6 separate regions of the Homo sapiens genome follow, and regions 1, 3, 4, 5 and 6 are each linked to region 2. Evidence: fine-mapped expression QTL. A gene starts in region 2. Each other region holds a variant in brackets. All regions are shown on one strand. Distances are between the middles of the regions.

Region 1 (5,088 bases), 170 kb before region 2:
AGCAGAGACTTAAATATTGAGGCTAGCCAGATTACAAGGGGTAGAGGGCAGGAAAGGTTGGCAGTATGCCAGGAAGCAGCAAGAGAGGGAGTAAGGTGTGAAAGAGTGAATGTATTTGCCTACAAGAGAAGGATGAGTGAGTAGGGCATTGCAGGCAGTTCAGTAATGCCAGAGAAAGGGCACATGGGGAAAAGGGCTAAAGATGGAGAGTGAGGCAGAATTCTGATTATGAAAGCATTCTGTGTAATTTTAAGATGCTTGGACATTAATGTTCAAGAGTGGTCCCTGGTCCTATCTGCATTAAATACAGATCACTTTAAATGCCAAAACCAATATTCCTGGTGAACCATTATTCATTAACACAAGGTGATAGGTAGCTCATGTGGACACAGCTGAGATGATACTATGCAGCAAATGCTCAATAATTCTTATGAACAGTTGGAAATTCAATTCTATAATAAAGTCATCTAAATTATAAGAAATCACATAAAATTTGGTTTGGGAAGGTGCTTTCTAAAGTTATAGTGCATATAAATATAACTAATAGTTGTGAATTCAGAGCTGTGAAAATAAAGCAAAGAAACCACATTGTGTTTGAGTCAGCAATCTTTAGATTTCTATCCAGTTTTCCTATCTAGTCCCTAAATCCTAAATATAATACTGGCACTCACTCTCAAGTTTATGTTAAATACTAGCCTATACACACAAAAAAAAGTTCTTTCTCTTACTTCTTTTTGTTATTTATATGTTGCTTTGGTCAAAGAACACAAAAATGCCTTGCTAAAAAGGATTCTGTTTGGTTGCAGTTTGCAAGAGGGGAAGAAACACAAAGTATATTTTGCCAAAAAGTGATTTTTTAGAAGTCAGAACTATAACACGAAGCCAAGCAGAGGCACTCTAGGACTGAATTTGCTGTGCTTCTTTAATATGTTCCTTGGCCTCTTTGTTTTCTGGCAGCTGTGACTCACACAAGTCATGGAGAGTATCATTCTCTAAGAGAAACACAACTCCAATTCATCTTTATCTATTAAGTTCATCTCTCCCAATTCTGTGGATGCTGACTTTCAGTCATTGATGGTGATACACATGGAAATTTATCATCAACTTTCAGATTCTTGGATCTTTGACAAGTCTTATTACTGAGAGTCAAACTAGTAGGATGCCAGCTATAAATGCTGATATTCAATGATCTATTCAAAAATCCTATATGAATATCCCATTAAACATGCACAGAAAAATAATTAGTCATTCCTCTTGAGCTGCTCTTCTTTGCTCTTCTGTATTCACCAGAAAATTTCCTACTCCTTCCTCATGTTCAGGTTAAATAATACTGTACAACCTGGAAACCTGTGAATCATCTGGGATTTCTCTCTGTCCCCTAAATTTTCTCATTCAACAGTCACTAAATCATATTGACTATACCTCTCTTCTGCTTCCATTTTATATTCCCACTGCCACTGGGAACATAAACATTTACAAAGTGGCTTTTATTTTTTTAAAAAACCCAGCTGTTAATGTTATTTCTTACATGAAAAAAAATTAAAACAAAACAAATGAAAAAGGCATAACACCAAAAAAAGGCCAACATTTTAAAATGAATAACTGAGATTCCTAACTTTATTTATTTCACGATGGATGGGTGAAAACCTTATAATAAATTGATACTAGTCCAAGGACATGTGACAAGGAAACTGTAGCTGACTACAGCAAATCTTCCTTTGTCTCCTGGTTTCTTTACATGGTTACCTTCCATCAATCCTCTATGAGGGGTCAGAAAACTATAGGCCACAGGCCAAATCCAGTCTCCCTTATGGTTTTCTAAATAACATTTTATTGAACTCCGGTCTACAGCACCCAGCGTGAGCAACGCAGAAGATGGGTGATTTCTGCATTTCCATCTGAGGTACTGGGTTCATCTCACTTGGAAGTGCCAGACAGTGGGCGCAGGTCAGTGGGTGCGTGCACCGTGTGTGAGCCAAAGCGGGGTGAGGCATTGCCTCACTTGGGAAGCACAAGGGGTCAGGGAGTTCCTTTTCTGAGTCAAAGAAAGGGGTGACGGACGCACCTGGAAAATCGGGTCACTCCCACCCGAATACTGCGCTTTTCTGACCTGCTTAAAAAACGGCGCACCACGAGATTATATCCCGCACCTGGCTCAGAGGGTCCTACGCCCACAGAGTCTCGCTGATTGCTAGCACAGCAGTGTGAGATCAAACTGCAAGGCGGCAGCAAGGCTGGGCAACGGGCGCCCGCCATTGCCCAGGCTTGCTTAGCTAAACAAAGCAGCCAGGAAGCTTGAACTCGGTGGAGCCCACCACAGCTCAAGGAGGCCTGCCTGCCTCTATAG[G/A]CTCCACCTCTGGGGGCAGGGCACAGACAAACAAAAAGACAGCAGTAACCTCTGCAGACTTAAATGTCCCTGTCTGACAGCTTTGAAGAGAGCAGTGGTTCTCCCAGCACGTAGCTGGAGATCTGAGAACGGGCAGACTGCCTCCTCAAGTGGGTCCCTGACCCCTGACCCCGAGCAGCCTAACTAGGAGGCACCCCCCAGCAGGGGCACACTGACATCTCACACGGCAGGGTATTCCAACAGACCTGCAGCTGAGGGTCCTGTCTGTTAGAAGGAAAACTAACAAACAGAAAGGACATCCACACCAAAAACCCATCTGTACGTCACCATCATCAAAGACCAAAAGTAGATAAAACCACAAAGATGGGGAAAAAAACAGAACAGAAAAACTGGAAACTCTAAAAAGCAGAGCATCTCTCCTCCTCCAAAGGAACGCAGTTCCTCACCAGCAACGGAACAAAGCTGGATGGAGAATGACTTTGACAAGCTGAGAGAAGAAGGCTTCAGACGATCAAATTACTCTGAGCTGCAGGAGGACATTCAAACCAAAGGCAAAGAAGTTGAAAACTTCGAAAAAAATTTAGAAGAATGTATAATTAGAATAACCAATACAGAGAAGTGCTTAAAGGAGGTGATGGAGCTGAAAACCAAGGCTCGAGAACTACGTGAAGAATGCAGAAGCCTCAGGGGCCGATGTGATCAACTGGAAGAAAGGGTATCAATGATGGAAAATGAAATGAATGAAATGAAGCGAGAAGGGAAGTTTAGAGAAAAAAGAATAAAAAGAAATGAGCAAAGCCTCCAAGAAATATGGGACTATGTGAAAAGACCAAATCTACGTCTGATTGGTGTACCTGAAACTGACGGGGAGAATGGAACCAAGTTGGAAAACACTCTGCAGGATATTACCCAGGAGAACTTTCCCCATCTAGCAAGGCAGGCCAACTTTCAGATTCAGGAAATACAGAAAATGCCACAAAGATACTCCTCGAGAAGAGCAACTCCAAGACACATAATTGTGAGATTCACCAAAGTTGAAATGAAGGAAAAAATGTTAAGGGCAGCCAGAGAGAAAGGTCGGATTACCCTCAAAGGGAAGCCCATCAGACTAACAGCGGATCTCTCAGCAGAAACTCTACAAGCCAGAAGAGAGTGGGGGCCAATATTCAACATTCTTCAAGAAAAGAATTTTCAACCCAGAATTTCATATCCAGCCAAACTAAGCTTCATAAGCAAAGGAGAAATAAAATACTTTACAGACAAGCAAATGCTGAGAGATTTTGTCACCACCAGGCCTGCCCTAAAAGAGCTCCTGAAGGAAGTGCTAAACATGGAAAGGAACAACGGGTACCAGCCGCTGAAAAATCATGCCAAAATGTAAAGACCATCGAGACTAGGAAGAAATTGCATGAACTAACGAGCAAAATAACCAGCTAACATCATAATGACAGGATCAAATTCACACATAACAATATTAACTTTAAATGTAAATGGACTAAATGGTCCAATTAAAAGACACAGACTGGCAAATTGGATAAAGAGTCGAGTGTGTGCTGTATTCGGGAAAACCATCTCACATGCAGAGACACACATAGGCTCAAAATAAAAGGATGGAGGAAGATCTACCAAGCAAATGGAAAATAAAAAAAGGCAGGGGTTGTGATCCTAGTCTCTGATAAAACAGACTTTAAACCAACAAAGATCAAAAGAGACAAAGAAGGCCATTACATAATGGTAAAGGGATCAATTCAACAGGAAGAGCTAACTATCCTAAATATATATGCACCCAATACAGGAGCACCCAGATTCATAAAGCAAGTTCTGAGTGACCTACAAAGAAACTTAGACTCCCACACATTAATAATGGGAGACTTTAACACCCCACTGTCAACATTAGACAGATCAATGAGACAGAAAGTTAACAAGGATACCCAGGAATTGAACTCAGCTCTGCACCAAGCAGACCTAATAGACATCTACAGAACTCTCCACCCTAAATCAACAGAATATACATTTTCTTCAGCACCACACCACACCTATTCCAAAATTGACCACCTACTTGGAAGTAAAGCTCTCCTCAGCAAATGTAAAAGAACAGAAATTATAACAAACTATCTCTCAGACCACAGTGCAATCAAACTAGAACTCAGGATTAAGAATCTCACTCTAAACCGCTCAACTACATGGAAACTGAACAACCTGCTCCTGAATGACTACTGGGTACATAACTAAATGAAGGCAGAAATAAAGATGTTCTTTGAAACCAACGAGAACAAAGACACAACATACCAGAATCTCCGGGATGCATTCAAAGCAGTGTGTAGAGGGAAATTTATAGCACTAAATGCCCACAAGAGAAAGCAGGAAAGATTGAAAATTGACACCCTAACATCACAATTAAAAGAACTAGAAAAGCAAGAGCAAACACATTCAAAAACTAGCAGAAGGCAAGAAATAACTAAAATCAGAGCAGAACTGAAGGAAATAGAGACACAAAAAACCCTTCAAAAAATTAATGAACCCAGGAGCTGGTTTTTTTGAAAGGATCAACAAAATTGATAGACTGCTAGCAAGACTAATAAAGAAAAAAAGAGAGAAGAATCAAATAGATGCAATAAAAAATGATAAAGGGGATATCACCACCGGTCCCACAGAAATACAAACTACCATCAGAGAATACTACAAACACCTCTACGCAAATAAACTAGAAAATCTAGAAGAAATGGATAAATTCCTCGACA
Region 2 (5,088 bases):
AATGGCTTCCATTTTCACATTTCTAGTCACTCTCTGTAGACTTTTTCCTACACTTGATCATACCCAAGAGACCATGAAGCCATGAGCTTTTCCTTCGTAATTTCTCCACACATCATCATCCCTTCGTAGATGGAATAAGTACTGTGTGTACTCATGTTTCTCTAAGCCTTTGGTGGTGGGCGGAATAAGGTACTTGTTTTATACTTAGATTATCCACACGAATTTTAGGCTGAAAGCTCTTCATTGTCATTGTTACTAACTATGCTATTTGGGAATGTGCAGAGGGGCTCAGTCTTCATTGAATGTCAAAATTACCTGAGGAAGCTCTAAAAAAACTACAAAAGTTACCAATGCCCTGGCCCCATTCCAGACCAATTAAATCAGAATCTCTGCCCAATCAGCATGATTTTTTTAATTTCCCACAAAAAACAACGAACCTCCCAAAGGGATTCGAGTGTGCAGCCGAGGGTGAAGACCACAGCTAGGGAACCACAGCTAGAGACTGTCAGAGTAACGCCAGCGGATTTTGACACCTTTTTTTTTCACTTTGCATTATTTGAATGTGGTTTTTAAAAATAATAATAACAGTCTGTATCACTTACAGACACGACCAAAGGACCCAATTACTAAGCCATCAAATAAGTCATCAAATATGACCTCGAAACTGAGCTTGATGTTCAGCTTCAAGAAAAAGCTGTCACCTTCCCACACAGCAGCTGACCTAAGAAATTCCAGGGCAATACCCCCAGAGCGTTACAGACAAAAGAACAATTATTTCCTTCTCTCTCCTCTGGTCTACCTCGTCTTGGTGGGCAAATTACCAAATAAAGTCACCTTCCAATGGTGCGGGGATAAATGTGCTGCTTGTGTATTACACCTTTATTTCCTTTCCAAATATTTAATTTCTGGTCTAGCTCTCTGCTCGTGAGTTATCTTTGCTGGGCATATTTTTAAAGACATAGTCTACTTTTTTTTTTCTTCAAGCAAATGCTGAATTTTCAAAAAGAAGGAAGATGATGACGTTTTTAGTAGGAAAGCTGTGCGGCCCAAACATGGGCTCCAGGTGACAGGGAAAGCCTTGCGGTCCCAACGCGGCTTCCCCTCACTACGTGTGATTACTATTTACAAACCACCTCTCTCTAAAAGTAAGTGCCCTTTGATAAGCTAATACTGGCGCTAAAATGCAAAGAGTGTTCGGCGGGATCAGTCCCTGACAAATTGTGATCAGGCAGATTACATAACCTCCCCGGGGTCCTTGCAATTTTAAAGGAGGGGAGCGCAGGAGATGAAGGTTGGGTGGATCAAGGATCGCACAAAATGTAATCCTCTGAGCCGCTTTTCCAAAATTCACAACGCCTTTCTCCTCCAGCTTCTGCTTGGAGAGGAGGGGTCGTTTGAACTCCATACACAGACACTAAAACTTCGTATTCTGACCAAGAAAAGGGCGCGAGAGGGGAAAGACAGGTGACTCCCACCGTCCCTCCTACCCAAAGGGGTTTGCGATGCTTGCCCGACCCCTCTGGGAGGGGCGTGTGCGAAGGACCTAGGGCCTGGGGCTCCCCGGTGCAGGGGTCTAGATGGAGACCTGGAATCTGTATTTGTCACCGTTTTCCCCACCGAGTTCGGAGAGCAAGCCAGTTGTGCAATCACGGTATGAGCTGAGCGCCTCTTAAGCCAGCGCACCGGACAAACGCCCGGGGTCCGGGGCCCGGGGCAAAAGCGCCCAGCCCGGCCCCTCCCAGGCGGCGGCGGCGGCGGCGGCGGCTTCCCAGTCACCCTGGAGGGAAAACGCGCCGAGGGGAGACGCGCGGAGGGCTCGCCCGGGACCGGGCTGCAGGCCGCGCCCCCACCGCCTTCTCCGCGGTTCCTCACCCGCCGCACATCCACGCAGGTTCAACCCCAGCGCGGGGCGAACGCGCGTCCCGGCCCCAGGCTTCCCACCCGCTGAAGCCAATGGGTCGCACGGCTCCGGCGCCACGTCCTCGGGGGCGAGGCCCTCAGGGAAGGGACCCTGCTCTAAGTCCCTCCGAACAGTGGACTGGGTGCAGGGGGAGTCCGAGCCCCCCCGATCCTCGGCTGGCCCGCCTCCTGGCTGCCAGTTTGTGGGGTCCCGGCGTCCCGATCCGCGGCCTCTGTTTAGACGGAAGGCGCCAGGACGCAGGCTCCGCTGGGGTGGGCGCCGCCTGGGCGCCCAGGTTCCACTCCGCCGCGGTCCGAACCGCCCCCTCCCCCGCCTCCGCGGGGCCCGGCCGCAGCACCCCGAAGTCCGGCCTCCGGTCTGGGGCGCGGGACCGCGAAGTCGCAGCAACAGCCCAGGCCACGGGGGCGGTTCCGGCCCGGCCTAGCGCTCGGCGCCGCGCACGGAGATAGGGGCGGCGCCGCGGAGAGGAGACGCTGCGCTCGTAGCCGGCCGGGCGGCGGTAGGAGGTGTGCACTCACCTCGTGGCGGCGCGGCCTGGGCATCGCGCCCCGAAGAGCCGCCGGGGGCCAGCAGCGCGGCGCTCAGCACGGACGCGGCCAGCAGCAGCGCGGCCAGCGCCCTGCCCGCCCCGCTCATGCCCGCCGCCCGCTCGGCCGCCCTTGCCTGCCCGCTGCGCCCCGCCCTGCGCTGCTCCGCCGCGGACGCCCGCGCGCCCGTCATCGCCCCCTCCGCTGCCGTCACCGCCGCCTGAGTCACCGCGGGAGGCGGAGGCGCCCGGGAGCCGCGGGCGGGGGAACCTAGGGGCTGGGCCGGGCCATGCTAGGCCCTGCCTTGAGGGAGCTGGCCAGGAAAGAAGCCGAGGCTCTGCGCCCCTGCGTTGGGAGTGTTTGTCTTCGGGAGGAAAAACAGCCGGAAGAGAGGCCCCTGCAGGCCAGGAGCCTTCTTCCCTCGCCCCACCTTCTCCAGCCGCATTCTGCCAAACTCCCGCCCCCGCCGGCCACCCTCCGCACGGGTGTTAGAGCCCTCGGTCCCTGTTTTGGAAAACGCCTCAATAAGCAAGACTGCAAAGTCCCTGCCCCCAAGGCGTTTATTACCCAGAGGGAGAGGCACGACTTAGAAGCCACCAAGCGGCCCCACCTCTTGAAAGAGCCCCCGGCCAGGCTGACGAAGTGGAAGGGAGCAGGTCGAGGAGTGTGCACACCCATTCTTGGCTGTATGCCGGGAGACACTATCGCAGGTATAAGGGACAGGTACAGTAATACCTATAGCAGAGGTGCTTGTAATTGCAAAACCTTGTCAACAAGCTGAATGTCCGCCAGCGAGAAAACAAACTGCCCCACAGCAGGGGAAGTGCTCTACAGCTTCCCGCATCCACATGGATAAATCTCAAAACACAAGGCTGGGGAAAATGCAAATTGCAGAATGCCTTTTTAATATATAAAGCAAAACAATAATGTATGTTGTTTAGGGACATCCATATATGTAATAAAAATACAAAGGCACACATGAAAATGTTGCGGGACTTTTCCTTAGTTCAGCTAAAGACGGTGGAGGTCCTTGTCACACGCCAGGAAAGATTAGGCTCGCAGACAATTTGAAGGGTAAGGCAGGGTTTTATTGGGTGTAAAGGAAGAAAAAGGGGAACAGGGACTCAGCAGAGCCAGAGTTCTCCTAGTTGTAGGCTTCCCACCTCACAGATTAAATCCCAGGTTCTCCCGAGGAAGAGGAGGGCCAGGCTCCTCCCAGCTGCAAACTGAGGAGCGAACTTCTGTGGCTCCACCCCAGAGCAGTGCACAGGCCAGTTGGAGTTTTACCAGGGAACCCTTCCCATCTGGCTCATTCCTCGCTCTAAAGAAGTCTATCTAACTGCCACTAGGATAAGAATAGGGACAAAGACAGATCTTAACTGCTTCCTGCTGATAGGGGGCACTGTTTCGGGAAAATGGCAATCAGATCTCCCTCAGAGGCCTATCTAAGGGTGCCCAGCAGAAGGGGCCATGGTCCGAGCTTCCAGTAGCATGACCGTTTGATGTCCTGAAGGCAAGAAGAGACAAACTGGGTTATTAAACACATATGGCCGGGCACAGTGGCTCACGCCTGTAATCCCAGCACTTTGGGAGGCCAAGGCAGGTGGATCACGAGGTCAAGAAATCGAGACCATCCTGGCCAACATGGTGAAACCCTGTCACTACTAAAAATACAAAAAATTAGCCGGGCGTCATGGCAAGTACCTGTAGTCCCAGCTACTTGGGAGGCTGAGGCAGGAGAATCACTTGAATCCGGGAGGCAGAGTTTGCAGTGAGCCAAGATTATGCCACTGCACTCCAGCCTGGCAGGTCAGGAGTTCAAGACCAGCCTGGCCAACATGGTGAAACCCTGTCTCTACTAAAAATACAAAAATTAGCCAGCAGTGGTGGTGCCTGCCTGTACTCCCAGCTACTTAGGAGGTTGAGGCAGGAGAATCGTTTGAACGGAGGTTGCAGTGAGCCAAGACCACATCACTGCACTCCAGCCTGGGCGACAGAGTGAGACCCTGTCTCAAAAAAAAAAAGAAAAGAAAAGAAACAAGGGGAGGGATAAGGACAGCTCAAAAATCCTGAGGCTTTTTACCAATTTGTACACGGAGAAGGGGGCCAAAAGTCCGAATGGTAAACAACTTTACCCTTTTGCTGGCATGTTGGGCTTCTGGGTTCCCTTCCCCTGAAACCAATCCTAAGCCAGCCAGTTTAAGGTTTAGGAAATTAACTCTTTCCAGTTTGGAAAATGCATCTGAGGGGAGTGTCCCATAGTATGGAGACACAATTAGGATTGTCATTGTGAACCGAGGAGGAGAAAGGAAAAAAGAAGGCATTTTTTCAAAGGAATCCGAAGGGTTCCAGATGCATTTGAAAGTGGTGCAGACTGAAGATAAATGGCTACCCACATAGAAAGAGGGGAGCAGGCATCCCTGGTTCTTTTCCTAGCAAATACCTGGGGTACGTGAGGGATAGAAGGAATAGCGTCCTCTTCCATCCTTGCATCCCCATGCAACCTTCGAAAGTGCTACCATGGGTGCCAAAATGGCTTGCATCCATGAAGCAGGGGTCTAGAGGGTGGGAATTATCTCCTCTACCCATGAATGCCCTATCACCCCTGCTGTCAGTAGTCTTGGAGTTCCCTAGACCTCA
Region 3 (5,088 bases), 120 kb before region 2:
TGGAGATCTGAGAATGGGCAGACTGCCTCCTCAAATGGGTTCCTGACCCCTGACCCCCAAGCAGCCTAACTGGGAGGCACCCCCCAGCAGGGGCAGACTGACACCTCACACGGCCGGGTACTCCAACAGACTTGCAGCTGAGGGTCCTGTCTGTTAGAAGGAAAACTAACAAACAGAAAGGACATCCACACCAAAAACCCATCTATACATCACCATCATCAAAGACCAAAAGTAGATAAAACCACAAAGATGGGGAAAAAACAGAGCAGAAGAACTGGAAACTCTGAAAAGCAGAGCATCTCTCCTCCTCCAAAGGAATGCAGCTCCTCACCAGCAATGGAATAAAGCTGGACAGAGAATGACTTTGACGAGTTCAGAGAAGAAGGCTTCAGACGATCAAACTACTCTGAGCTACAGGAGGAAATTCAAACCAAAGGCAAAGAAGTTGAAAACTTTGCAAAAATTTAGACGAATGTATAACTAGAATAACCAATACAGAGAAGTGCTTAAAGGAGCTGATGGAGCTGAAAGCCAAGGCTCGAGAACTACATGAAGAATGAAGAAGCCTCAGGAGTCGATGCGATCAACTGGAAGAAAGGGTATCAGTGATGGAAGATGAAATGAAAGAAATGAAGCGAGAAGGGAAGTTTAGAGAAAAAAGAATAAAAAGAAATGAACAAAGCCTCCAAGAAATATGGGACTATGTGAAAAGACCAAATCTACGTCTGATTGGTGTACCTAAAAGTGAAAGGGAGAATGGAACCAAGTTGGAAAACACTGCAGGATATTATCCAGGAGAACTTCCCCAATCTAGCAAGGAAGGCCAACATTCACATTCAGGAAATACAGAGAACGCCACAAAGATACTCCTCGAGAAGAGCAATGCCAAGACACATAATTTTCAGATTCACCAAAGTTGAAATGAGGAAAAAATGTTAAGGGCAGCCAGAGAGAAAGGTCGGGTTACCCACAAAGGGAAGCCCATCAGACTAACAGCGGATCTCTCGGCAGAAACTCTACAAGCCAGAAGAGAGTGGCGGCCAATATTCAACATTCTTGAAGAAAAGAATTTTCAACCCAGAATTTCATATCCAGCCAAACTAAGCTTCATAAGTGAAGGAGAAATAAAATACTTTACAGACAAGCAAATGCTGAGAGATTTTGTCACCACCAGGCCTGCCCTAAAAGAGCTCCTGAAGGAAGTGCTAAACATGGAAAGGAACAACCGATACCAGCCACTGCAAAATCATGCAAAAATGTAAAGACCATTGGGACTAGGAAGAAACTGCATGAACTAACGAGCAAAATAACCAGCTAACATCATAATGACAGGATCAAATTCACACATAACAATATTAACTTTAAATGTAAATGGACTAAATGGTCCAATTAAAAGACACAGACTGGAAAATTGGATAAAGAGTCAAGACCCATCAGTGTGCTGTATTCAGGAAACCCATCTCACGTGCAGAGACACATAGGCTCAAAATAAAAGGATGGAGGAAGATCTACCAAGCAAATGGAAAATAAAAAAAGGCAGGGGTTGCAATCCTAGTCTCTGATAAAACAGATTTTAAACCAACAAAGATCAAAAGAGACAAAGAAGGCCATCACATAATGGTAAAGGGATCAATTCAACAAGAAGAGCTAACTATCCTGAATATATATGCACCCAATACAGGAGCACCCAGATCCATAAAGCAAGTCCTGAGTGACCTACAAAGAGACTTAGACTCCCACACATTAATAATGGGAGACTTTAACACCCCACTGTCAACATTAGACAGATCAATGAGACAGAAAGTTAACAAGGATACCCAGGAATTGAACTCAGCTCTGCAACAAGCGGACCTAATAGACATCTACAGAACTCTCCACCCCAAATCAACAGAATATACATTTTTTTCAGCACCACACCACACCTATTCCAAAACTGACCACATACTTGGAAGTAAAACTCTCCTCAGCAAATGTAAAAGAACAGAGATTATAACAAACTATCTCTCAGACCACAGTGCAATCAAACTAGAACTCAGGATTAAGAATCTCACTCTAAACCGCTCAACTACATGGAAACTGAACAACCTGCTCCTGAATGACTACTGGGTACATAACGAAATGAAGGCAGAAATAAAGATGTTCTTTGAAACCAACGAGAACAAAGACACAACATACCAGAATCTCTGGGACGCACTCAAAGCAGTGTGTAGAAGGAAATTTATAGCACTAAATGCCCACAAGAGAAAGCAGGAAAGATCCAAAATTGACACCCTAACATCACAATTAAAAGAACTAGAAAAGCAAGAGCAAACACATTCAAAAGCTAGCAGAAGGCAAGAAATAACTAAAATCAGAGCAGAACTGAAGGAAATAGAGATACAAAAAACCCTTCAAAAAATTAATGAATCCAGGAGCTGGTTTTTGAAAAGGATCAACAAAACTGATAGACCGCTAGCAAGACTAAT[A/G]AAGAAAAAAGAGAAGAATCAAATAGATGCAATAAAAAATGATAAAGGGGATATCACCACCGATCCCACAGAAATACAAACTACCATCAGAGAATACTACAAACACCTCTACGCAAATAAACTAGAAAATCTAGAAGAAATGGATAAATTCCTCGACACATACACTCTCCCAAGACTAAACCAGGAAGAAGTTGAATCTCTGAATAGACCAATAACAGGATCTGAAATTGTGGCAATAATTAATAGCTTACCAACCAAAAAGAGTCCAAGACCAGATGGATTCACAGCCAAATTCTACCAGAGGTACAAGGAGGAACTGGTACCATTCCTTCTGAAACTATTCCAATCAATAGATAAAGAAGGAATCCTCCCTAACTCATTATATGAGGCCAGCATCATCCTGATACCAAAGCTGGGCAGAGACACAACCAAAAAAGAGAATTTTAGACCAATATCCTTGATGAACATTGATGCAAAAATCCTCAGTAAAATACTGGCAAACCGAATCCAGCAGCACATCAAAAAGCTTATCCACCATGATCAAGTAGGCTTCATCCCTGGGATGCAAGGCTGGTTCAATATACGCAAATGAATAAATGTAATCCACCATATAAAGAGAACCAAAGACAAAAACCACATGATTATCTCAATAGATGCAGAAAAGGCCTTTGACAAAATTCAACAATCCTTCATGCTAAAAACTCTCAATAAATTAGGTATTGATGGGACGTATCTCAAAATAATAAGAGCTATCTATGACAAACCCACAGCCAATATCATACTGAATGGGCAAAAGCTTTAAGCATTCCCTTTGAAAACTGGCACAAGACAGGGATGCCCTCTCTCATCACTCCTATTCAACATAGTGTTGGAAGTTCTGGCCAGGGCAATTAGGCAGGAAAAAGAAATAAAGGGTATTCAATTAGGAAAAGAGGAAATCAAATTGTCCCTGTTTGCAGACGACATGATTGTATATCTAGAAAACCCCACTGTCTCAGCCCAAAATCTCCTTAAGCTGATAAGCAACTTCAGCAAAGTCTCAGGATACAAAATCAATGTACAAAAATCACAAGCATTCTTATACACCAACAACAGACAGACAGAGAGCCAAATCATGAGTGAAGTCCCATTCACAATTGCTTCAAAGAGAATAAAATACCTAGGAATCCAATTTACAAGGGATGTGAAGGACCTCTTCAGGGAGAACTACAAACCACTGCTCAAGGAAATAAAAGAGGATACAAACAAATGGAAGAACATTCCATGCTCATGGGTAGGAAGAATCAATATCATGAATTTACAGATTCAATGCCATCCCCATCAAGCTACCAATGACTTTCTTCACAGAATTGGAAAAAACTACTTTAAAGTTCATATGGAACCAAAAAAGAGCCCGCATCACCAAGTCAATCCTAAGCCAAAAGAACAAAGCTGGAGGCATCACACTACCTGACTTCAAACTATACTACAAGGCTACAGTAACCAAAACAGCATGGTACTGGTACCAAAACAGAGATATAGAACAATGGAACAGAACAGAGCCCTCAGAAATAATGCCACATATCTACAACTATCTGATCTTTGACAAACCTGAGAAAAACAAGCAAAGGGGAAAGGATTCCCTATTTAATAAATGGTGCTGGGAAAACTGGCTAGCCATATGTAGAAAGCTGAAACTGGATCCCTTCCTTACACATTATACAAAAATCAATTCAAGATGGATTAAAGACTTAAACGTTAGACCTAAAACCATAAAAACCCTAGAAGAAAACCTAGGCACTACCATTCAGGACATAGGCATGGGCAAGCACTTCATGTCTAAAACACCAAAAGCAATGGCAACAAAAGCCAAAATTGACAAATGGGATCTAATTAAACTAAAGAGCTTCTGCACAGCAAAAGAAACTACCATCAGAGTGAACAGGCAACCTACAAAATGGGAGAAAATTTTCGCAACCTACTCCTCTGACAAAGGGCTAATATCCAGAATCTACAATGAACTCCAACAAATTTACAAGAGAAAAAAAACCCCATGAAAAACTGGGCAAAGGACATGAACAGACACTTCTCAAAAGAAGACATTTATGCAGCCAAAAAACACATGAAAAAATGCTCACCATCACTGGCCATCAGAGAAATGCAAATCAAAACCACAATGAGATACCATCTCACACCAGTTAGAATGGCAATCATTAAAAAGTCAGGAAACAACAGGTGCTGGAGAGGATGTGGAGAAATAGGAACACTTTTACACTGTTGGTGGGACTGTAAACTAGTTTAACCATTGTGGAAGTCAGTGTGGCGATTCCTCAGGGATCTAGAACTAGAAATACCATTTGACCCAGCCATCCCATTACTGGGTATATACCCAAAGGACTATAAATCATGCTGCTATAAAGACACATGCACACGTATGTTTATTGTGGCATTATTCACAATAGCAAAGACTTGGAACCAACCCAAATGTCCAACAATGATAGACTGGATTAAGAAAATGTGGCACATATACACCATGGAATACTATGCAGCCATAAAAAATGATGAGTTCATGTCCTTTGTAGGGACATGGATGAAATTGGAAATCATCATTCTCAGTAAACTATCGCAAGAACAAAAAACCAAA
Region 4 (5,070 bases), 440 kb after region 2:
TACTAAATCCAATAACCTGTTATAAATCTCAGATCTGTATTTCTAGATCCATCAACATCTGTCCATAATTTTATGAACAGGATTTCATAAAAATCTTCAGGATTATTTATGGTTTTACTGATAATGCCATTTTTTTATCCTCAGCCAGGACAGAAAAGAAATAATTGGGCCGGGCATGGTGGCTCATGCCTGTAATCCCAGCACTTTGGGAGGCCGGAGCGGGTGGATCTCCTAAGGTCAGGAGTTTGAGACCAGCCTGGCCAACATGGTGAAACCTCATCTCTACTAAAAATAAAAAAGAATTAGGTGTGATGGTGGGCACCCGTAATCTCAGCTACTCGGGAGGCTGAGGCAGGAGAATCCCTTCAATCCAGGAGGCAAAGGTTGCAGTGAGCCAAGATTGCCACTGCACTCCAGCCTGGGTGACAGAGCGAGATTCCGTCTCAAAAAAACCACAAAAAACAAAAAACAAGGCCGGGCGCAGTGGCTCACACCTGTAATCCCAGCACTTTGGGAGGCCGAGGTGGGTGGATCACGAGGTCAGGAGATTGAGACCATCCTGGCTAACACGGTGAAACCGCATCTCTACTAAAAATACAAAAAATATTAGCTGGGCGTGGTGGTGGGCACCTGTAGTCCCAGCTCCTCTGGAGGCTGAGGTAGGAGAATGGCGTGAACCCGGGAGGCGGAGCTTGCAGTGAGCAGAGATCGCGCCACTGTACTCCAGCCTGGGCGACAGAGCGAGACTCCATCTCAAAAAAAAAAAAGAAAAGAAATTATTGAAGAATTCCAAATCTCAGCAAAGACGATTGTGAAATGTGGATTTTTTTGCTTTGATGCCTTTTGGTATATTTTGTTTCTTCCTTCCACTATTGCCGCCTCGTCAAAAAAAAAAAAAAAAAAAGCATACCACAAATATGGCAGCCTCTTCCGTCACCCATGGAGCTAGCCCTCATGGTGAAATCAAAGAATGCATATTCAATGGATTCTTGATAGCATGAGACCTTTTTCTTCTTTTTTTGAGACCGAGTTTCGCTCTTGTTGCCCAAGCTGGAGTGCAGTGGTGTGATCTCGGCTTTCTGCAACCTCTGCCTCCCAGGTTCAAGCGATTCGATTCTTCTGCCTCAGTCTCCCGAGCAGCTGGGATTACAGGCGTGTGCCACCACGCCTGGCTAATTTTTTGTATTTTTAGTAGAAACGGAGTTTCACCATGTTGGTCAGGCTGGCCTCAAACTCCTGACCTCAGGTGATCTGCCTACCTTGGCCTCCCAAAGTGTTGGGATTACAGGTGTGAGCCATGATGCCCAGCTGAGAGCTTATTAGAAAATGGCTTTGTTTTTATTTCCTCTTGCATTCCTAGACACTGGAACCATTCCTAGGATACAGTAGATGCTCAATAAGTATTTATTGAATGAATAAACACATTGTGTCTTATCATATCATCATGTTGTAAGAGAGATGGGAAGATAAATAAGATACACCTCCTGCTTTTTGAGAGCAGATAGCACACACAAAATATGAAATAGCAATATGAGAGACAACCCATGGCCACACCCAAGGCTCCTTTTTACCAAAGCCAGAAATATAAAAATGAAGGGGTTGCCTCTTGTAATTTGAAAAAAGTAGTTTTGCATAACAAAAAGAAACTATTTTGTTTACAATGAATAGTAAAGTTAAAAAATGTAAGGAAATATGGGACAGATTTAAAAATATGAGCAGATGCTGATGGATCTAGAAATACAGATGTAAGATTTATCACAGGTTATTAGATTTATTATAGATCTGTGAAAGATTACACAATCTTCCCAAACTCTTCCAGCCCACACAATGGAGACCAATGCCAGAGGCCAAGCAATTCCAGTTTTCTTATGTAATCATGATTGTACACAGAGGACGAGACTTAGCTGAACCAAGAGAGTTTATGCTAAACACCCTCGCTAACCATTGAGAGAAATCATTCCTTGGGAAAAGAGTGGTAAGAATCAATTGTCTTATAATAAATAGAATAATAAAGACAGAAAAACATCAGACACACGTACATTAATGGTAAGCTCAAACACACAGAATTTTCTTATCATTTTTGTGATTGGCAAACTGCATTCAAGACTTTGAAAAGTCCAAATTTCATGATATTTGAAAGTGAGTTTGAGGCTTTCTGCATTTAGAAATTCCTGTTTGACTTTGAGTCCTTGGTCTGAGAAAAGGCGTTTTTGACAACAGGATAATGTTCAGGTGCCTCGCAGCCTTGGGAACTTGAAATGTAGAATTTATTTCTGGATTTGGGCAAATCTCCCTTAGTGTCTCCAGTTCTCCATTTGAAAATTACAATAATCAAACGTGGCAAAAATACTACTGAGAAATTAATACAAATTGCTAGTGAACTGACACTTTTCTCACCATCTGGCTGCGGTTTCAGATGGTTTCTGATTCAATGGGGGAAAACTTTCTGTTCTCAAGTTACACAAAAAGTGAAAAGATTCCCAAACCCAGGAAATTGGCAGGTGCAAATGACCAATCCCCAAAGCCTTTCAGTACTTTATTCCCCTTTCTTTTTCTCTTTTTGTTCTTTCTCTGCATCTCTGTCTCTATCTTTCACTTTTTCCTTTTATTTGTCCTTTATCCTTATCAAAAATTCCTCTATTTTCAGTTGATAATAGTCACATAAAACACATAGAGTTTTGATACATTGGTGTTTAATTGTGATATATAAACATGCTAAATCTACCTACATACACAGATTTATTAAAATATATAGGCCTACAGGGCATATTGGACAAAATTAAATATCTACATGCAGATATAGAAATTATTGGTAAATATGATAGAAAAATGTTGATATAGTAAATTTCTGTGCCAAATATTTGAACAATTCTCTGAGTAATGCTCAGTGCATTCAATAATGTTTTTCCTGCTTTTGTATTTTCTTACCAAGCTCATAGTGATTCAGAAGGAGAAACGCAGCAAATGACAAAAACATAAACATTATGAAAATCATAGATATGATTTCTTCAGCAAAAAAAACCCCACATCTCACAGAATTACTCATTTGGGCCACATTTTAAAGGT[T/A]ATCCTAAATGTATCTTGTGCATTACATATTGTAATTCTAACATTATCAACACCATAGTTTTGCCTCCTCTGCTTAAATAATTCTGCAACTGTAGTTTTAATTTACTGTGACTTGTGCTTACCTGAGGAAGGGATGCCAAGGACGATGAGAACCAGCATAAAATCTGGGAGCATCGTGATGTCAGTTTCAGAAAGACAGTTTCTTCCTTTTTAACAACAGAGCATTTCCACTGGAAAAGGGGGTTTTGAAAAGAAAATACAGGGGTTCAAAATCCGAAGTGGAACCCAAGAGGACAGCAACACCTGGAGTGGAATAAAACAATCTCAACCCCTCTCGCCGAGTGTGCCGCTTCTCAAAGTGCACTTCATTGATTTGCAGTCAGCTGTCAGATCGTGTAAGTCTAAAACATATCTCTGGGTCCTAACTCCTGACTTATTAATTTACTCCCTTGCAAGAGATGCGGGGCACTGGAGAAAGGATGAAACTAGACAACTTCTGAATGTTCTGTGCTATTTTTCTTACAGTTGGAGATCTGCGTACAGAAGAACCACACTTTACCACATCCATAGTGAAAAGTTTCTCATCCCCGTTATTTCTCTATTCTCTTTTCTTTTTCTTTTTATTCTTTTTTTTTTTTTTTTGATATGGAGTCTCACTCTGTCACCCAGGCTGGAGTGCAATGGTGCAATCTCGGCTCACTGCAACCTCCGTCTCCCAGGTTCAAGCCATTCTCCCACCTCAGCCTCCTGAGTAGCTGGGATTATAGGCACCTGCCATCATGCCCAGCTAATTTTTGTATTTTTGTAGAGACAGGGTTTCACCATGTTGGCCAGGTTGGTCTTGAACTCCTGACCTCAGGAGATCCGCCCGCCTTGGCCTCCCAAAGTGGTGGGATTACAGGCATGAACCACTGCGCCCAGCCTCTCTATTCTCTTTTCCAGTTGGACCTGAAGTCATGAGTATGTCCTGGAGCCTCCCTATTCTGCTGGTTCCCACATGTGTTAATATCAGCACATTCTCTGTGGCTCCCTTGACCCCACCAGGCCCACCTTCTGGTCACTGCAGGGGACAGTAGGGTGGGAGGTTAGTGGTGTTTTATGTATGAGACTTGGACACTAATAACACCATCCTTTCTTCTTCACAGTTGATCAGATTTCATCTAGTTCAGTGCTGTGCACACCCAGAGGGCCCTTGATAAATGCATGATACATCAAATGAATGGCAAGTACAAAGTCAGGGCTAGACAGACAAGAGGGCCAGGTGGGAGCCAAGACCTATCTGGTTGGGAACTGAGTGCTGGAGGAACCCACTCCAGGGCATGGAGGAATTCTGTCTTAGCGGCAGTGATTTAGTCCAATTTTTAAATTTCTTAATTTAACCCTCCTCTGTGTGCCATTAGTGAGTTTGAGACACCCAGAGGGTGCTCGGTAAGGAGGCATCATGTGTGGAAAAGAGGTCTAGCCCAGGACCCCGGGACCCTGAGCTCTTGAGCCCTGTCTGTTCCTCAGGGCCCCTGTCTCAGAGCCCCTCACATCACAATGTCGCTGCCCTGCCTGGCCTCCCTTCCTAGACCACCAGCTCCTGCAGGAGGGCTTGGTCTCCAGCCCTCTGGAGTCTCCTCTGTATCTCTCTGTGTCCAGGGCCTGACACCTGCAAATGCTTGAGAACGTTGTGGGAATGCAAGGAGGAAGGAAGGAGCCATGCACTGATTTCCTCCTATCCATCTCAACTGTGCTCCCAGCCTGCTGAGAATTTGTAATGGTCTCAGGAGTAAATCAGCCACCGCCAATCCAAGTGTGCAGGAAGTTTCACCTTTATTTTCAAGAAATTGAATAAAATGAAGCTAGCCTTCCATGGAACTGGCTGGAAATCCAATCTCAGTCATTGCAGGCCCTGCAGCCTTCTCCCTAGGGGAGCAACTGAATCTGGAAGCCTTTTGTGGTCCCCAAAATATGGCACAGTCTTGTATCCTCCAGGCTGCCTTGACCACAGCTGGGGTCCAT
Region 5 (5,088 bases), 520 kb before region 2:
AGATGAAATGACACATCACAAAACAGTTTAAATGATAGCTTGTTTCTAGTTTTTATCTGGGGATATCTGGTTTTTATGGTAGGCCTCAAATAGCTTCCAAATGTCTTATTGCAGATTCCATAAAAAGACAGCTTCCAACATGTTAAATAAAAAAAAAATTTAACTCTATGAAATGAATCCACAAATCAGAAATCAGTTTAACAGATAGCTTTTTTCTACTTTGTATACTGGGATACTTGGTTTTGTACCTTAGGCCTCAATGTGCTCCCAAATGTCCCTTCACAGATTCTACAAAAAGAGGATTTCCAAACTAGTGAATCAAAAGAAATGTTTAACCCTGTGAGATGAATCCACACATCACAAAGCAGATTCACAGATAGCTTCTTTCTAATTTTTATTTGGGTATATTCTATTGTTCACCACAAGACTCTCTGGGTTGCCAAATTTCCCTTCGCAGATTCTACAAAAGAAGAGCTTCCAACCTGCTGAATCAAAACAAACGTTTAACTCTGAGATGAATCCACACATCACAAAGCACTTTTACAGATAGTTTCTTTCCAATTTTTACCTGTGGATATTCTGTTTTTCACCATAGCCTTCAATAGGTTCTGAAATGTCTTTTTGCAGATTCTACAAAAAGAATGTTTCCAACCTGCTGAATCAAAAGTAAAGGTTTAACTCTGTGATATGTATCTGCACATCAAAAGCAGTCTCGCAGATAGCTTCTTTCTAGTTTGCATACTGGGATATTCGATTTTTCACCCTATGCCTCTATGGGCTCCCAAGTGTTTCTTTGAAGATTCTGGAAAAAGAGTGTTTCCAACTTCCTGATTCAAAAGAAACATTGAACTCTGTGAGATGTATCCACACATCAAAAGCAGTTTCACAGATAACTTCTTTCCAGTTTTACCTCTGGATAATGTGTTTCTCATCGTAGGCCTCAATGGGCTTCCAAATGTCCCTTTGCAGATTCTACAAAAAGTGTGTTTTCTTCCTGCTGAATCAAAAGAAAGCTTTAACTCTGTGAAATGAATCCACACATGACAAAGTAGTTTCACAGATACCTTATATCTAGTTTTTATCTGAAGATACTCGGTTTTTCACCTTAGGCTACAATGGTCTTAGAAATGTCCATTTGTAGATTCTCCAAGAAGTGTGTTTCCAACGTGCTGAACACGAAGAAGTGTTTAACTCTTTTGGATGAATCCACACATCCAAAAGCAGTTTCACAGATAGCTTCTTTCTTGTTTTTATCTCAGGATATTCAGTTTTTCACCATAGCCCTCAAAGGGCTTTTAAATTTCTCTTCACAGATTCTACAAAAAGTTTTTCCAACCTACTTAACCAAAATAAACTTTTAGCGCTGTTAGATGAATCCACACATCATTAAGCAGGTTCACTGATAGCTTCTTTCTAGTTTTTATCTAGGCATATACAGTTTTTTATACTAGGCCTCAATCAGCTCCCAAATGTCCCTTTGCAGATTATACAAAAAGAGTGTTTCCAACCTGCTGAATCAAAAGAAAGGTGTAACCCTCTGAGATGAATACACACATCACAAAGAAGATTCACAGAGGGTTTTCATTTGGGTATACTCAGTTTTTCACCTTAGGCCTCCATGGGCTCTCAAATGTCCTTTAACACATTCTACAAAAGGAGCGTTTCCAAACAGCTGAATAAGACGAAAGTTTTAACTCTGTGAAATGAATCCACCCATCACAAAGCAGTGTCACAGACAGTTTCTTTCTAGTTTTTATTTGGGCATATTCTGTTTTTCATTATATGACCCAATCAGCTTTCAAATGTCCCTTTGCACATGCTACAAAAAGAGTGCTTAAAACACACTGAATCAAAAGAAAGGTTTATCTCAGTGGGATAAATCCACACATTACAAAGCACTATCTTAGCTATCTTCTTTCTAGTTTTTATGTTGGGATATTCAGTTTTTCACCATAGGACTCAATGGGCTCTCAAATTTCCCTTTGCAGTTTCTACAAAAGAGTGTCTCCAACATGCTGAATCAAAAGAAATGTTTAACCCTGGGAGATGAATCCACACATTACAAAGCACTTTCACAGATAGATTCTTTCTCGTTTTTATCTTGGGATATTCAATTTTTTACCCTAGGCCTCCACGGGCTCTCAAATGTCCCCTCACAAATTCCACAAAAAGAGTGTTTCCAATCTTCTGAATCAGAAGAAAGGTTTAACTCTGTGAGATGAATCTACACCTCAATAAGCAGTTTCACAAATAGCTTTTTTCTGTTTTCTTTAGGGGGATAATCTTTTTTTTTACCATAGGCCTCAATGCACTACCAAATGTCTCTTCACAGATTCTACAAAAAGAGTGTTTGTAACCAGCTGAATCAAAAGATCTGTTTAACCTTGTGACTTGAATCCATACATTACAAAGCAGTTTCACAGATAACTTTTTTCTTTTTTTTTTCTGGGGATAATTAGTTTTTCACCATAGGCCTCAATTGCCCCTTAAATGTCTCTTTGCAGCTTCTACAAAGAAAGTTTTTCCAATGTACAGATTCAAAAGAAAGGTTTAACACTGTAAGATGAATCTACAAATCACAAAGCAGTTTTGTAGATAGCTTGCTTCTAGTTTTTATCTGGGAATATATGTTTTTTCACCACAGTCTTCAAAGGGTTCCCAACTGTCCCTACGCAGACTCTAAAAAAAGAGTGCATAAAACCTACTGCATTTAAGAAAGTTGTATCCCTGTGTGATGAATCCAGACATCACAATGCACATTCGCAGACAGCTTCTTACTCGTTTTAATCTGTGGATATTTGGTTTCTCACCATAGTCCTCAATGGGCTCCCAAATGTCACTTTGCAGATTCTACAAAAAAAGTGTTTCCTAACTGCTAAATCAAAAGAAAGACTTAACTCTGTGAGATGAATCCACACATCACAAAGGACTTTCAAAGATAACTGCTTTTTTGTTTTACCTGGGGATATTTGATTTTTCACCATAGTCCTTAAGGGGCCCAAAAATGTTTCTTCCCAGATTCTATGAAAAGAGTGTTTCCAACCAGTCAAATCAAAAGAAACTTTTATC[G/A]CTATGAGATGAATGCACACATCACAAAGCAGATTCACAGATAACTTCTTTCTCGTTTTTATCTGGAGATATTCTATTTTTCACCATAGGCCTCAATAGGCTTTCAAATGTCCCTTAGTAGTTTCTATAAAGAGAGTGTTTCCAACCTGCTGAACCAAATGAAAGGTTTAATTTCATGAGATGAATCCAAACTTCAAAAAATCAGTTTCACAGATAACTTCCTTCTAGTTTTTATCTTTGTATATTCAGTTTTTCACCTTAGGCCTCAATGCTCTCCCAGATATACTGTTGCAGGTTTTACAAAAAGAGTGTTTCCAACCCACTGAATAAAAAAAAAGGTTTAACTCTCTGAGATGAATGCACACATCATCAAGCACTTTCACACATAGCTTCTTTCTAGTTTTTATTTGAGGATATTTTGTTTTTTACTATAGGCCTCAATAAGCTCTAAAATGTCCCTTAACATATCCTACAAAAAGAGAGCTTAAAAGCGAATGAATGAAAAGAAAGGATTATCTTTGTGAGATGAATCCAAACATCATGAAGGAATTTCACTATTAGCTTCTTTCTAGTTTATAGTTGGGGATATTCTGTTTTCCACCACAGGTCTCAATGGCCTAAACAATGTCCCTTCGCAGATCCTACAAAGACGTGTTACCGGTCTGCAGAAAGAAAATTTAAGCTTACCTCTGTGAGATGACTGCACACATCAGAAAGTACTTTCATGGAGAAATTCTTTCTTGTTTTTATCTAGGATATTCAGTTTTTCACCATAGGCTACAATGTTCTCCCAAATGTCCCTTCACAGATTCTACAAAAAGAGTGCTTAAAGAGTGTTTCCAGCCTGCTGAGTCAAAAGTAATATATAACTCTCTGAGATGAATCCACACATCACAAAGCAGTTTTACAGATATTTCTTTCTTTTTTTGTCTTGGGATATTTTTCACCTTATGCCTCAATGGGCTCCCAAATGCCTTTTCAAATATTCTACAAAAGCAGAGTTTAGAAACTGCTGAATTAAAGTTTAACTCTGTGAGATGAATCCACATATCACAAAGCAGTTTCACAGATAGTTTTTTCTACTTTTTTTCTGGGGATATTCTGTTTTTCACCAAAGGCCACAATGGGCTCCCAAATGTCTCTTTGCAGATTCTTCAGAAAGACTGTTTCCAACATGCTGATCAAAAGTAAAGTTTAACTCTGTGAGATGAATCCACACATCACAAAGCAATTTTACAGATTTCCTCTTTCTAGTTTTTATCTGGGGATATTTCGTTTTTCACTGCAGGCTTCAATGGGCTCTGCAATGTCCCTTTGCAGATTCTAAAAAAAGAGTGTTTCCAACATGTTAATCAAGAGAAAGAGTTAACTCAGTGTGGTGAACCAACACAACACAAACGAGTTTTGTAGATAGTTTCTTTCTAATTTTCATTTGGCAATATTCAGTTTTTCAACAAGGGCTTCAGTGGGCTCCCAAATATCCTTTTGCAGATTCTAAAAAAAGAAGTGTTTCCAACCAGCTGAATCAAAAGAAAGGTTTAACTCTGTGAGATGAATCCACACATCACAAAGTCGTTTCACAGACAGCGTCTTTCTAGCTTTTATCTGGGGATATTTGATTTTTCACTACAAGCCTCAATGGGCTCCAAAATGTCTCCTTGCGGACCCTACAAAAAGACTGTTTCCAACTTCTGAATAAAAAGAAAGGTTTATCTCTTTGAAATGAATCAACGTAAAACAAAGCAGTTTCACATATAGCTTCTTTCTACTTTTTCTCTGAGAGTATTCCGTTTTCTCTACAGGTCTCAAAGGGATTTCAAATGTCCATCCACAGATTCCACAAAAGACTGTTTCCAGCCTGCTGAATCAAAAGAATGTGTTAACTGTGTGAGATGAATCCACACTTCATAAAACTGTTCCACAGATAGCTTCTTTCTAGTTTTTATCTGGGATCATTTGGATTTTCACAGTAGGCAAAAATGGGCTCTCAAATGTGGCTTCTCAGATGCTACAAAAAGA
Region 6 (5,000 bases), 150 kb after region 2:
CATTTAAAACATAAAGCCTCAATTAATTCTTCAGTTGGTAACTAGAAATGAACTTCTAATTCCCAGCAGAGCGAATCTGAAGAGACAATAAAGTACTATCTGGTCCTTTTTATAAGGAATGTTAGTAAAAAGGAAAACACTATTTCTTTTCTATAACCAATATAATACTAAATTATTTTGACAAAAAACATCAAATAAAAAATAAAAGTTATTTCTCAACATTGTGAAACTGATGGACCATCGTTGGTACATATTAAAACTTACATCTTCTGCTTTTGAGCCTTGATCCTGTAAAGATTTTTGTAATTCTTCAACTTGTGACTGTACTTCCAGAAGTCTTTGATTCACCAGCCTAGAAATGAAATGTACATTAATTTTCCAAGTGGTGAGTTACGTATGCCTTTTTTCCCTAGGTTGTCATATTAGTTAGAAAGTATAATTAGCAAAATCAAGTCTCATGTTATAGCAGTAGTAGTATAGTAGTGGCCTAATGTCATGAGTGGCAGCTTACTTTTCTGATTATTTTTGGTATTGCTTGAAATTTCGAATGATGACTTCTAACACAGTGTTTGGGTGGGCACATATTTTAGAACCAATGTACTTATGCATATTAATTTCTCTGAAATTCACTTCAATACATGTTTATGAAGACTATGTCTCAAGGACTGTGCTCAGCACTAGTATTAAAAGATCTCTGCACTCAGGAAGTGGGTGGTGGCCCATGCCAGCACTTTGGGAGGCCAAGGTGGATGGACTGCATGAGCTCAGGAGTTTGAGGCCAGCCTGGCCAGCATGGTGAAACTCCATCTCTACCAAAAATAGAAAAATTAGCCAGGCATGGTGGTAAGCACCTGTAAGTCCCAGCTACTTGTGGGGATGAGGTAGGAGGATCGCTTGAGCCCAGGAGGTCGAGGCTGAAGTGAGCTGTGTTCGTGCCACTGCACTCCAGTCTGGGCAACACAGTGAGACCCTGCCTCCCAAAAAAAAAAAAAAAAAAAAAAAAAAAAGATCCCTGCCCTCACGGAATTAAAGTCTAGTGGGGAGGAAAAAGTGTAAACAAATAAAATACAATCAGATAAAAACTTCAAAGTAGTACATAGATGCATATAAAAATGATGGTCAAAGAAGCAATAACTCTCTGGAGGAGTTAAAATACTCTGGGCTTGAAATGAGACTAGAACAATAAATAAAACATCTATGAGTTAAGGGTGGAAAGGAGATTCAAGACAGAGGTCAGTATGTCCAAAGTATGCAGAAAAATAAGAGGATGCAGTGAATTCAGGAATGGTATAGATGATGAGTATGTTATGAGAGGAAGAAAGGCCGGAGAGAAACTGGGGGAAAAGGAGATCAGCACAACCCTGTATGGAATACAAAGTGTCTGCTGGGATTATCCTGTAATCAGCAAGCCTCAAGTCAGGCTGAAACTGGAACAACTCAGATAACCTTAAATAACGCTGATTCCACGGCTTGACTTTCTTTTTTCTTTTTCTTTTTCTTTTTTTTTTTTTTTTTTGAGACGGAGTCTCCTTCTGTTGCCCAGGCTGGAGTGCAATGGTGCAATCTCAGCTCACTGCAACCTCCGCCTCCCAGGCTCAAGCAATCCTCGTGCCTCAGCCTCCTGAGTAGTTGGGATTACAGATGCGCACCACCATGCCTGGCTAATTTTTGTATTTTTAGTAGAGACGGGGTTTCACTATGTTGATCAGGGTGGTCTCGAACTCCTGACCTCAGGTGATCCACCTGCCTCGGCCTCCCAAAGTGCTGGGATTACAGGCATGAGCCACCGCGCCTGGCCCATGGCTTGACTTTCATAAATTCTCTAGGTCATGATGCAACATTCAGGAGACCAGCTTACCTCCCAAGGTCTTGGGTGATACTGAAGGATTGCAAGAAGGGAAAACATGGTCAGACAGACCACACAGGTAGTATGTCAGACAGATCACT[T/C]TGGTTTTAAAATGGAAGATAGTATCAAAAAGGTTCAAGAGCAGGCATGAAGATGAGAGAAGGCTATTATTATTATTATTACTAAATATGCCTGAAATAGAAAGGGACAGAGGAGGAAATAGAAAGGGACAGACGAACTATCTTGAGAAAAGGCAAAAGAATATAAGGATTTTGGTATTCGCTGAGAAGGGAAGACAAAAGGAATAGGATAAGAAAGAAATATAGGAATCTGATTTTACATTTGTTGAAAATGAAATGCCTAGAAATTTGTCAAACAGCTAGATACCTCAATCTAAAGCAGAGAGAAGCCTGAGTTGAACATACAGATTTGGGAGCCATGTGGAGTTAACTGAGGCCATGAGCAAAAATGATATTGTCTAGAAAGAATGTGAAAAACAGTGTAAAAGACTAACAAAGAAGGCCCATGGCGGATCAATCAAGGGGTAGAAAGAGGAACCTCACCCTGAAGAATATCAGAGAATGAGAGAGAATGTAAGAGATGGGTATTATTGAAATAAAAAATTTGAAGAAGGGGGAACTGAATAACAACACTGAATATAGTAGAAAGGTGAGGAAAGATAAAAGTCTTGAGTGCTGCTATGGGATTGGCCATTTAAGAGATGACCAGTTATCTTAGTAAGAAATACTTTCGTGAAATGGTAGTAGCAGAAGCCAGACTGCTCCAAATTAAGGAGAAAACAAGACAATGAGTGTTTAGAATCCAAACAGCCAAACAGTTTAATAAGAAATGCTTTTACTTAAATTATAAGAAATTATAGGTTTATAATTTAGAAAGGATCACAGTAAAAATTTAATTAAAGCTATAACTTTTTCACATCAAGGTAAAAAAATCTGAGTGGTTTTGAGTAACAAAAGAATAAATTACCTGAAAAATCCACATTCAATATGGGGACACAGGTCCATAAACACATTACTAGTAATACCACAATACTGTTCACTCTTTTCAGAAAGCAAAATGGAAATATGTATTCAACTAAAAGATTATTTCAACTATCCATCTTAGTCATTTTTGAGATTATTTCATCAAACAATACTGTAAGCCAACTAGGCGGAAGCCATTGTAAACATCATAAAACACAATCCAGTATGTACCAAGATGTTCTTTGGAATGGTTTAAAAACAGCTAAATTCTCTCAATGGGGAATAGGTGAGCAAAAATAGTAATGTAACTGTTAAAGTATGCAGTATGTAAGCAACATAAATATAAGAAAATATTTATGAAAAAAGTACATCTAGAAAATACTCAAAAAATTGAAATAATATCAAGTATCTTCTCTGAACACAATAAAACTAGAAATCAGTTAACAAAAGAAATTTTACAAACTATACAAACACATGGAAATTCAACAATATGTTCCTGAATGACCAGTGGGTCAGTGAAGAAATCAACAAGGAAACTGAAAAATTTATTGAAACAAATGATAATGGAAACACAACATACCGAAATCTATGGGATACAGCAAAAGCCGTAGTAAGAGGGAAATTTATGGGCACAAGTACCTACATCAAAAAAGAGAAAACCTTCAAATAAACAACCTAACGATGCCACTGAATGAACTAGAAAAGGAAGAGCAAACCAAACCCAAAATTAGTAGAAGAAATAATAAAGATAAGAGCAGGCTGGGTGTGGTGGCTCACATCTATAACCCCAGCACTTTGGGAGGCCAATGTGGGTGGATCACTTGAGGTTAGGAGTTTGAGACAAGCCTGGCCAACATGGTGAAACTCCATCTCTACTAAAAATACAAAAATTAGCCGGGGGTGGTGGTGCACGCCTATAGTCCCAGCTACTCTGGAGGCTGAGGCAGGAGAATCACTTGAACCCAGGAGGTGGAGGTTGCATGAGCCGAGATCGCGCCACTACACTCCAGCCTGGGTGACAGAGTGAGACTCTGTCTCTAAATAAACAAATAGATAAAAAATAAGGATCAGAGCAGAAATAAATGAATTTGAAATGAAGAAAACAATACAAAAGAGCAACAAAACAAAAACCAGTTTTTTGAAAAGATAAATTGACAAACCTTTAGCCAGACTAAGAAAAAAAGAGAGAAGACCCAAATAAATAAAATCAGAGACAAAAAAACGAGACATTACAACTGATACCGGAGAAATTCAAAGGATTACTGGTTATTATGAGCAACTATATGCCAAAAAATTGAAAAATCTAGAAGAAATGGATAAATTCCTAGACACATATGATCTACCAAGATTGAATCATGAAGAAATCCAAAACCTGAACAGACCAATAGCAAGTAATGAGATTGAAGCCATAATAAAAAGTCTACCAATAAAGGCCCCAGATCCGATGACTTCACTGGCAAATTCTACAAAACATTTAAAGAAGAACTTATACCAATCCTACTCAAACTATTCTGAAAAACAGAGGAAGAAGGAATACCTCCAAACTCATTCTATGTGGCAAATATTACCCTGATACCAAAACGAAACAAAGACACATCAAAAGAAAAAAAACAAAACAAAACTATAGGCCAGGCATAGTGGCTCACGCCTGTAATCCCAACACTTTGGGAGGCCAAGGCAGGTGGATCACCTGATGTCAAGAGTTCGAGACCAGCCTGGCCAACACGGTGAAAACCTGGCTCTACTAAGCTACTGCACTCCAGCTTGGGCGACAGAGTAAGACCCTGTCTTAAAAATATATATATAAGTATAGGCCAATATAACTAATGAATATTGATGCAAAAATCCTCAATAAAATACTGCAAACCAAATTCAACAACACATTAAAAAGATCATTTATTATGACCAAATGGGATTGATCCCAGGTATGCAAGGATGGTTCAACATCCTCATACCAACTAATGTGACACATTATATCAATAGAATAAAGGACAAAGACCATATGATCATTTCAATTGATGTTGAAAAAGCATTTGATAAAATTCAATGACAATTCATGATAAAAACTCTCAAAAAACTAGGTATAAAAGGAACATACCTCAACATAATAAAAGTTACATACGAGAGACCCATAGCTAGTATCATACTGAATGGGGAAAAACTGAAAGTCT

Which allele goes with the higher level. Positions count from the first base shown, and alleles are read on the strand shown. Sizes are in standard deviations (SD) of each study's normalised expression. Not every link is listed here.
In carriers of allele G in region 3, the expression in cerebral cortex of the gene that starts at base 2,590 in region 2 tends to be higher than with A alone (moderate effect, 0.41 SD a copy in GTEx).

Evidence for each region. PIP is the estimated chance that this variant, and not a neighbour inherited with it, causes the effect.
Region 1: its variant is the best candidate, but not a certain one, in a credible set for the expression of HGSNAT in whole blood (INTERVAL, PIP 0.78).
Region 3: its variant is the best candidate, but not a certain one, in a credible set for the expression of HGSNAT in cerebral cortex (GTEx, PIP 0.62).
Region 4: its variant is the best candidate, but not a certain one, in a credible set for the expression of HGSNAT in whole blood (INTERVAL, PIP 0.51).
Region 5: its variant is the best candidate, but not a certain one, in a credible set for the expression of HGSNAT in whole blood (TOPMed, PIP 0.60).
Region 6: its variant is the best candidate, but not a certain one, in a credible set for the expression of HGSNAT in whole blood (INTERVAL, PIP 0.65).

Annotation. Positions count from the first base shown.
Region 1 is chr8:43,310,027-43,315,114 of GRCh38, reverse strand. The region is part of intron 6 of POTEA (POTE ankyrin domain family member A (gene/pseudogene)); the gene reads right to left. Among named protein-coding and RNA genes, the nearest start is that of POTEA, 20 kb to the right of the region's middle. The variant G/A (reference allele first, on the strand shown) is at 2,348.
Region 2 is chr8:43,137,966-43,143,053 of GRCh38, reverse strand. It overlaps HGSNAT (heparan-alpha-glucosaminide N-acetyltransferase), which reads right to left and starts at 2,590. Exons shown (of 18, transcript NM_152419.3): 1 at 2,440-2,590. The coding sequence starts at 2,557. RefSeq lists silencers at 1,611-1,990, 2,001-2,790 and an enhancer at 3,634-3,928.
Region 3 is chr8:43,260,855-43,265,942 of GRCh38, reverse strand. It overlaps the pseudogene AFG3L2P1. Among named protein-coding and RNA genes, the nearest start is that of POTEA, 29 kb to the left of the region's middle. The variant A/G (reference allele first, on the strand shown) is at 2,466.
Region 4 is chr8:42,695,717-42,700,786 of GRCh38, reverse strand. It overlaps CHRNB3 (cholinergic receptor nicotinic beta 3 subunit), which reads right to left and starts at 3,421. Exons shown (of 6, transcript NM_000749.5): 1 at 3,189-3,421. The coding sequence starts at 3,240. It overlaps LOC124900250 (a long non-coding RNA gene), which reads left to right and starts at 1,896. Exons shown (of 3, transcript XR_001745887.2): 1 at 1,896-1,975; 2 at 3,287-3,461; 3 at 4,212-4,289. The variant T/A (reference allele first, on the strand shown) is at 3,067.
Region 5 is chr8:43,661,797-43,666,884 of GRCh38, reverse strand. No RefSeq gene overlaps it. Among named protein-coding and RNA genes, the nearest start is that of POTEA, 370 kb to the right of the region's middle. The variant G/A (reference allele first, on the strand shown) is at 3,070.
Region 6 is chr8:42,992,902-42,997,901 of GRCh38, reverse strand. It overlaps HOOK3 (hook microtubule tethering protein 3), which reads right to left. Exons shown (of 22, transcript NM_032410.4): 16 at 265-352. Among named protein-coding and RNA genes, the nearest start is that of FNTA, 61 kb to the left of the region's middle. The variant T/C (reference allele first, on the strand shown) is at 1,948.